Linked DNA regions of Homo sapiens. The protein of the gene in region 1 interacts with the protein of each later gene in a pairwise test. Each region holds a gene or a part of one and is shown on either strand. Other genes may lie near its edges.

Evidence for each region.
Region 2: the proteins of UCK1 (region 1) and PLA2G12A interact in a two-hybrid assay, tested with the Homo sapiens proteins (one large-scale study listed by BioGRID and IntAct).

The regions. Positions count from the first base shown.
Region 1 is NC_000009.12:131,525,460-131,528,265, reverse strand, and holds part of UCK1 (uridine-cytidine kinase 1), read left to right. Parts: intron 1-1,762; exon of another isoform or gene 1,763-1,821; intron 1,822-2,288; coding exon 2,289-2,337; intron 2,338-2,806. UniProt on the Homo sapiens protein: Phosphorylates uridine and cytidine to uridine monophosphate and cytidine monophosphate. Does not phosphorylate deoxyribonucleosides or purine ribonucleosides. Can use ATP or GTP as a phosphate donor.
Region 2 is NC_000004.12:109,709,367-109,713,273, forward strand, and holds the end of PLA2G12A (group XIIA secretory phospholipase A2 precursor), read right to left. Parts: 3' UTR 623-3,907; downstream 1-622. UniProt on the Homo sapiens protein: PA2 catalyzes the calcium-dependent hydrolysis of the 2-acyl groups in 3-sn-phosphoglycerides. Does not exhibit detectable activity toward sn-2-arachidonoyl- or linoleoyl-phosphatidylcholine or -phosphatidylethanolamine.

The DNA.
Region 1 (2,806 bases):
GGTAAAAATACAGCACAAAGGAACTGAAACCAAGATTCCTGCCTTTGATAATGTAGGACAAGTAAGTTCTATCTGCTGCTTTTTTTTTTTTTGAGATAGGGTCTCTTTTTGTCGTCTAGGGTGGAGTGCAATGGCACGATCTCGGCTCACTCCAAACTCCACCTCCCAAGTTTAAGCAATTCTCCTGTCTCACCCTTCCGAGTAGCTGGGATTACAGGCGTACGCCACCACACCCAGCTAATTTTTGTATTTTTAGTGGAGATGGGGTTTTGCCATGTTGGCTGGGCTGGTCTCGAACTCCTGGACTCAAGTGACCCACCCACTTTGGCCTCCCAAAATGCTGGGATTGAGCCACTGTGCCTGGCCTTTTTTTAAATTTTATTTTTAATGAGGCAGAGTCTTGCTCTGTTGCCCAGGCTGGAGTACAGTGGTGCAATCACAGCTCACTGCAGTCTTGACCTCCTAAGCTCAAGCGATCCTTCCACCTCAGCAACCCGAGTAGCTGGGCCCACAGGCGTGCACCACCATGCTCGGTTAATTTTTAAATTTTTTGTAGAGATGGGGTCTCCCTGTGTTGCCCAGGCTGGTCTCCATCTCCTGGGATCTAGTGGTCCTCCCACCTCAGCTTCCCAAAGTGCTGAGATTACAGGTGTGAGCCACTATGCCTGGCCTATTGGCTGCTATATAAAGAAAACTTTTGTTTTTTTTTGCATTCATGCTGTCTGAAATTTCTAAAATATAATTTTAAAAGTAAAGTTAACTTGTTTTAGTCTCTCATTCACAGAAAGATATTTGGCAAAAAGTAGGTGATTCGCAGTAAAACTCTGGATATCAAATCTGCCTCAGCGACCTGAGTAGAGGAAGTGCTGTCACCTGCTATGTTCTGGGCCCAGGCCCCAGAGATGTTTTTGGTTGGTTTGTTTGCTTGCTTGTTTTTTGAGACAGGGTCTCCCTCTGCCACCCAGGCCCAAGTGCAGTGGTGAGATCTTGCTTCACTGCAGCCTCCACCTTCCACTCTCAAGTGATCCTCCCACCTCAGGCTCCTGAGTAGCCAGAGACTACAGGCACGCACCACCACGCCTGGCTAATTTTTCCTTTTTTTTTTTTTTTTGCACAGACGGGGTTTTGCCATGTTGGCTGGGCTGGTCTCAAACTCCTGGCCTCAAGCAGTCCACCCACCTCAGCCTCCCAAAGTGCTGGGATCACCGGCGTGAGCCACCGCACCCGGCCCCAGCCCCACCCAGAGCCGTTCTTGAGCCTCCTTTTCCTTCACCTTCATGTTGAGTGGCTTGTGCAGTCCTCTGCCTGGACCCCGTAGGTATTTCCCAACTGTATTCAGGCCCATCCCTGCTGGCGGTTAAGACCCCTGTCAGCTCTCCCGGACTCCTCCAGCCCGTCAGACTATCAGACTAGAATAGAAAGCAGCCCTCGCCCTTGCGCTCGTGCTTTCATGAGATGGGGTCCCACCAACTGCAGACACAGCTGTCCCCAGGACTTGGTCCCTGTCTGCCTCTTGCAGCTTGTCTCTTCTGCCGCCTTCTTGACCCAAATCCACACGCCAGCAGCACGCACCGTTCCAAGTTCCGTCCTTCGGCCCAGACCCTGCCCTCCCTCTTCCCTCAGCTTTGTCTGATTCAGCCATGTTCTCCAGGCTGCTTCCCCTTCCCTAAAGCCACCCCCCAACCCCCACCATCTGGCTGCGGACCCTCCCCAGCAGCCCTGCATTTCCTGATATATCTCCATCCTTGTCCTTCCTCAGCAGCAGAGCATCTGACAGGGAATGAGAGTCAGCATTGAGCCAATGAGTGGTTGGATGAGGGAGTAAGTTACCATCAGCGTCTCTGCCTGCAGTAATTATGCACGGCGGCGGCTGTCCTGTTGCTGTGCCAGGGTATTTGCAGAAGCTTCATGATTCCAGAGGAACAATGTCACACTTTGTAGAAGTGCCACACTTAGCTTGGCCCAGTGAATTGAGTCGTTAGCGTAGCCAGCTGTCTCCTGTAATGGAGTGGGAACACTGGAAGGGGGCTGTCTTCTGTGATGGAATGGGGACACTGGAAGAGGCACTTTCTTTTGGCTGCCTCAGCTGCACTTTCTGCCTCACTTCTTGGATCATGGCCTCTCACACCTGGCTGATGACTGAGTCTGTGTCCCCCATTTGCCGATGACACCAGCACCTCTGAGCACCCCAGGGCCGCCCCTCCTGCTGTTGCATCTGTTTCTGAGCATCTTAAAATCACCTTTGAAGGAAAAGTCCTCACAGGAACACCCCCCCTTGTGCCTTACAGACAAAGAAGTATGCCGATGTGATCATCCCGCGAGGAGTGGACAATATGGGTAAGAAGCTGGCCTGCTGGGCTGTCCCCCCGCCCCTCCCAGAGCTTGAGGCAGGGACAGTTCCACCAGTGTGCAGTTACTGAGCACTCCCCTGCGCACGCGGCCTGCCAGTGTTGATCTGCGGCACAGGGTTAAAATATGCTTAAAAATGTATGTAGCTGGGCGCGGTGCCTCACACTGGTAATCCCAGCACTTTGGGAGGCTGAGGCAGGGGGATCACTGGAGCCCAGGAGTTCAACAGCCTGGGGAACATAGCAAAACCCCATCTCTACAAAAAATAAAATTATTTGGGCATGGTGGCATGTGCCTCTGGTCCCAGCTACTCAGGAGGCTGAGGTGGGAGGATTGCTTGAGCCTGGGAGGTTGAGGCTGCAGTGAGCTGTGATTGGGCCACTGCACTCCAGCCTAGGCAGTAAAGTAAGAACCTGTTTCTTAAAACATATATATATGTATATTCAAATCTGTTAGC
Region 2 (3,907 bases), on another chromosome or scaffold:
CTTCCCTCTCAAAGAAAAATATTCCCACAGCAAATCCATTAAAATTCAGATACACTAAGTTAACTGACAGGATGACTTGATTCTTCCTATATCTGAATAGTTTTCCATAAAAGTGACTTATTGAAACTGGTTTGCCCTCATATCTCAATCGTGTCTTCATTACAGCTTCTCTGTGCTCAATGTCTCCTTTATGAAATAAACAGCCATCTCTGTCCCTGGAAGAAATGTGCCAAAAGATTTTAAGGAGATAGGCATTATTCAAAGGCAATATATTATTTTAAAATATAAATAAAAGTGGAACTTATTAAAACTGAAGGTCTTGGCTTGTCACCTATCATAGGAATGAAATATAGGGAATAAAGTTAAGTTCAGAGATAATTCTACAACTTAAAAATTTTGGTCACTGATTTTGGTGTTTAATATTTTTTCTTACAGAATTCATAGAAATATTAATTTCTATGATGATTCTGATTGCTATACTTAAAACTTGAAAGCCAACAGAGAAATGTTTGTCAAGTTGTCAACAAGGAGATTTTTGAAGGATGTTATGGAAACTGAATAAGTAAGCCTGAGGCAAAAAGTCTAACATCATTGTGACATATATAAAAGATGACACTAGTGATCCCTTTACAGTTTTATTAATAATTATTATTTTTCGTATACCGGTTGCACTGATTCATTTTTGCTCTTTTATTTTTTAGGCAGATGGCTGGTTTTTGTAGGATTAAGCAGTGAGGAAAAACAGCAAACTAAAAATGCTACTTCAAATATAGCAACAGTCACTACATAAGGCTTAAATCAATATATTGCAAGTAATTTCTATGAATTTTGAACAATACAATGTAGTGTATGTGGAAAGATCTTGCCTAATAAGTTTCATTCTACTCCTCAAAGTTACTGAAGTCAGTCAACTATTAATAACAGAATTGTTTTTATAGAAAGATTCCATCTTCTTTACTGTTAGATGTTATACGTGTCTTGTACTAGGATAAAATAATGAGCATTGTGCATCGCACCTTCTGATAATCTCATACTTCTATAAATACTAAGATAAATAATCACTCTTTTAAATTTAGAGAGAGTTGGTTTTAGGCTAACAATTTTTTTTCTTCTTTCCAAGACAGAGTCTTATTCTGACGCCTATGCTGGAGTGCAGCAGTGCAATCTCAGCTCACTGCAACCTCTGCTTCCCAGGTTCAACCAATTCTTGTGCCTTCACCTCCCGAGTGGCTGGGATTACAGGCATGTGCCACCACACCCAACTAATTTTTGTATTTTTAGTAGAGACAGGGTTTTGCCATGTTGGCCAAGCTGGTCTCGAACTTCTGACTTTGAGTGATCTGTCCGCCTTGGCCTCCCACAGTGCTGAGATTACAGGCTTGAACCACCATGCCCAGCCTCTAACAACTAATTTTAATAAGTATTACTGGACTAGTCTACAGGTTCACTGAAAGAAAGGCTACCTGTGAGGATGCGTTTAATTAGCTTTTGCCCTTATATCTCAATTCTGTCTTCATTACAGCTCTGTGCTCAGTTTCTCCATCTATGAAATAAATACAGCCATATCTGTCCCTGGAAGAACTATGTCAAAAGATTTTAAAGAGACAGGCATCATTTGAAGGCAGTATTATTTTAAAGTATCAATATTACATTTCTTGCAAAGAGCTGCTGACAGTTAGTTCTTGCCTTTTTTTTTTTTTTTTTTTTTTTGCTCTTTTAATGAGTTTATTCTGTCAATAGGGAAAATATCAACTTTAAAATCTAAACATATGCCACAAAATTTTGGGACAAATTTTGAGTTGAAGACGGCAGTACAAACTCATGTTTAGCTTTGTACACACATAAATAATTATAGATGTGTACATATGCATGGATTAATATACATACATATTTCTCAACTCTGCTACAAACAGTGACATCCCAGTAGCAACAAGCACATCTAATGCCCAGATCTTGGTTTCTAAGTATGATTCTCCAACAAAAGGAACCAGGGCTCTTTGGAGCAGGGGTTGATTCTAGGGATTCTAGGGTTGGGGCAGGGAATATCCAAGATGAACCTGGAGCATCTTGTAGTGCCAGAAAGTAAGAAGTGCTCAAAAATCAAAAGGATGGGCACATCAAAGGGACATAGTAGCCAACCTGGCAGAACTCCTAATAGCCAAGCTGGACAACTTAAGCAACAAAATAAATACTGTGTTACCCAAAATACAAAATATACATGAGTCCATACTGATGTAAACAAATTAGGGTGGGAGGGAGAAACAAATTTTCCATATAGAAAAATTCCAAATACTACATATGGATATTCCCACTTCCAGGGGGTTGAATGTAATCTTTCCCACCCACCACCTCCCATGACTGGACTTAGTGACTGTTTTCCAAAGAACAGAAGTATGGAAAGGGAAAATAACAGTAATTTTCAGCAGCAAAAAACCAACACACACTACCTTAACCAAGTGTCCAAAGTTAATACACCATCAAGCTGATAGCATGTAACTCCTGACATGATGCAGTGAGAAGGACCTTCACCTCTGGTATTCTTCCTAAAAATCTATAACCCCACTCTAACCATGAGGAAAACATCAGACAAACCCAAATTGAGGAATATTCTACAAAACACCTGACCAGTACTCCTCAAAACTGTCAAGGTTATGAAAAAGAAAGACTGTGGAACTATCACAGACCAGAGGCTAATTAGGCATGACGACTAATTCAGTGTGGTATCCTAGATTGGATCCTGGAAAAGAAAAATGACATTAATTAAAAAACTAGTACAATCTGAAAAATAAAGTCAAAGTTCCGTTAATAGTAATTGCCATTGCTGGTTACTTAGCTTCTGACAAATGCTTCATGGTTAAATAAAAGGTTAACACTGGGGGAACTGGGTGAGTGGTCACAGAAGCTCTCCATGTATCTTTGCAACTTTTCTGTAAATCTAAAATTATCCCAAGTTTTTTTTTTTAATCTGAACATAAAAAACTGTTTCTACTGATTTTTGTATAATTTGTGATCACGAATTATATTTTATAACGATATTGAGTTTGTCCTTTTGAGAAAGCCAATGCTGCTAACAAAATCCATGAATTCATTGTAAGTGTAAAGTTACCTGGACAAATATTTCAATAGTAAATATTGATAAACCATTTTTTTTTTAGAGTCTTGCTCTGTTGCCCAGGCTGCAGTGCAGTGGCACAATCTCAGCTCACTGCAACCTCCACCTCCTGGGTTCAAGTGATTCTCGTACCTCAGCTTCCTGAGTAGCTGAGACTATAAGCATGCGCCACCACGCCCGGCAAATTTTTGTATTTTTAGTAGAGACGCTGTTTCACCATGTTGGCCAGCTGGTCTCAAACTCCTGACCTCAAGTGATCCAACCGCCTCAGCCTCCCAAAGTGCTGGGATTATAGGTGTGAGCCACTGTGCCCAGCCGATAAGCATTAATTATTAATAATGGCTTACAAAACTGTACCTTTTATAAAGGTTTGAAATAAAGAATCAATTGAGGGTCCCAAACATTTAAGTGGAAACCCAGTTTGCTCACTTAGCCACAAGGCATACATGTGCCTTGTCTCACTGGAACAGCTGCCACCAATTCAAGTTGGAAGATACTAGGTTCCCGGCAATGACATATCTCCAAAGTTAGGAACATGGCCCTTTCTCCAGAACATACTTTTCCTTCTGCCCTGTTCTACCTGTAATGACTTACAAATAACCGCCTCTCCCTATGCTGTCCTTCTCTGACTTTGAAAGTCAGTTCATCTTAATAACTTTGGCCATGGGTCACCCAAAGGATATATATGGCTTGAGGTCCCAGGCTAGGGAAAGGTTAACAACCAGTAGTCAGCAAAGACCGGTCTAGGAACATAACTGAGCATTCCAAGAGATTGAAAAGTTTTCAACATTCATA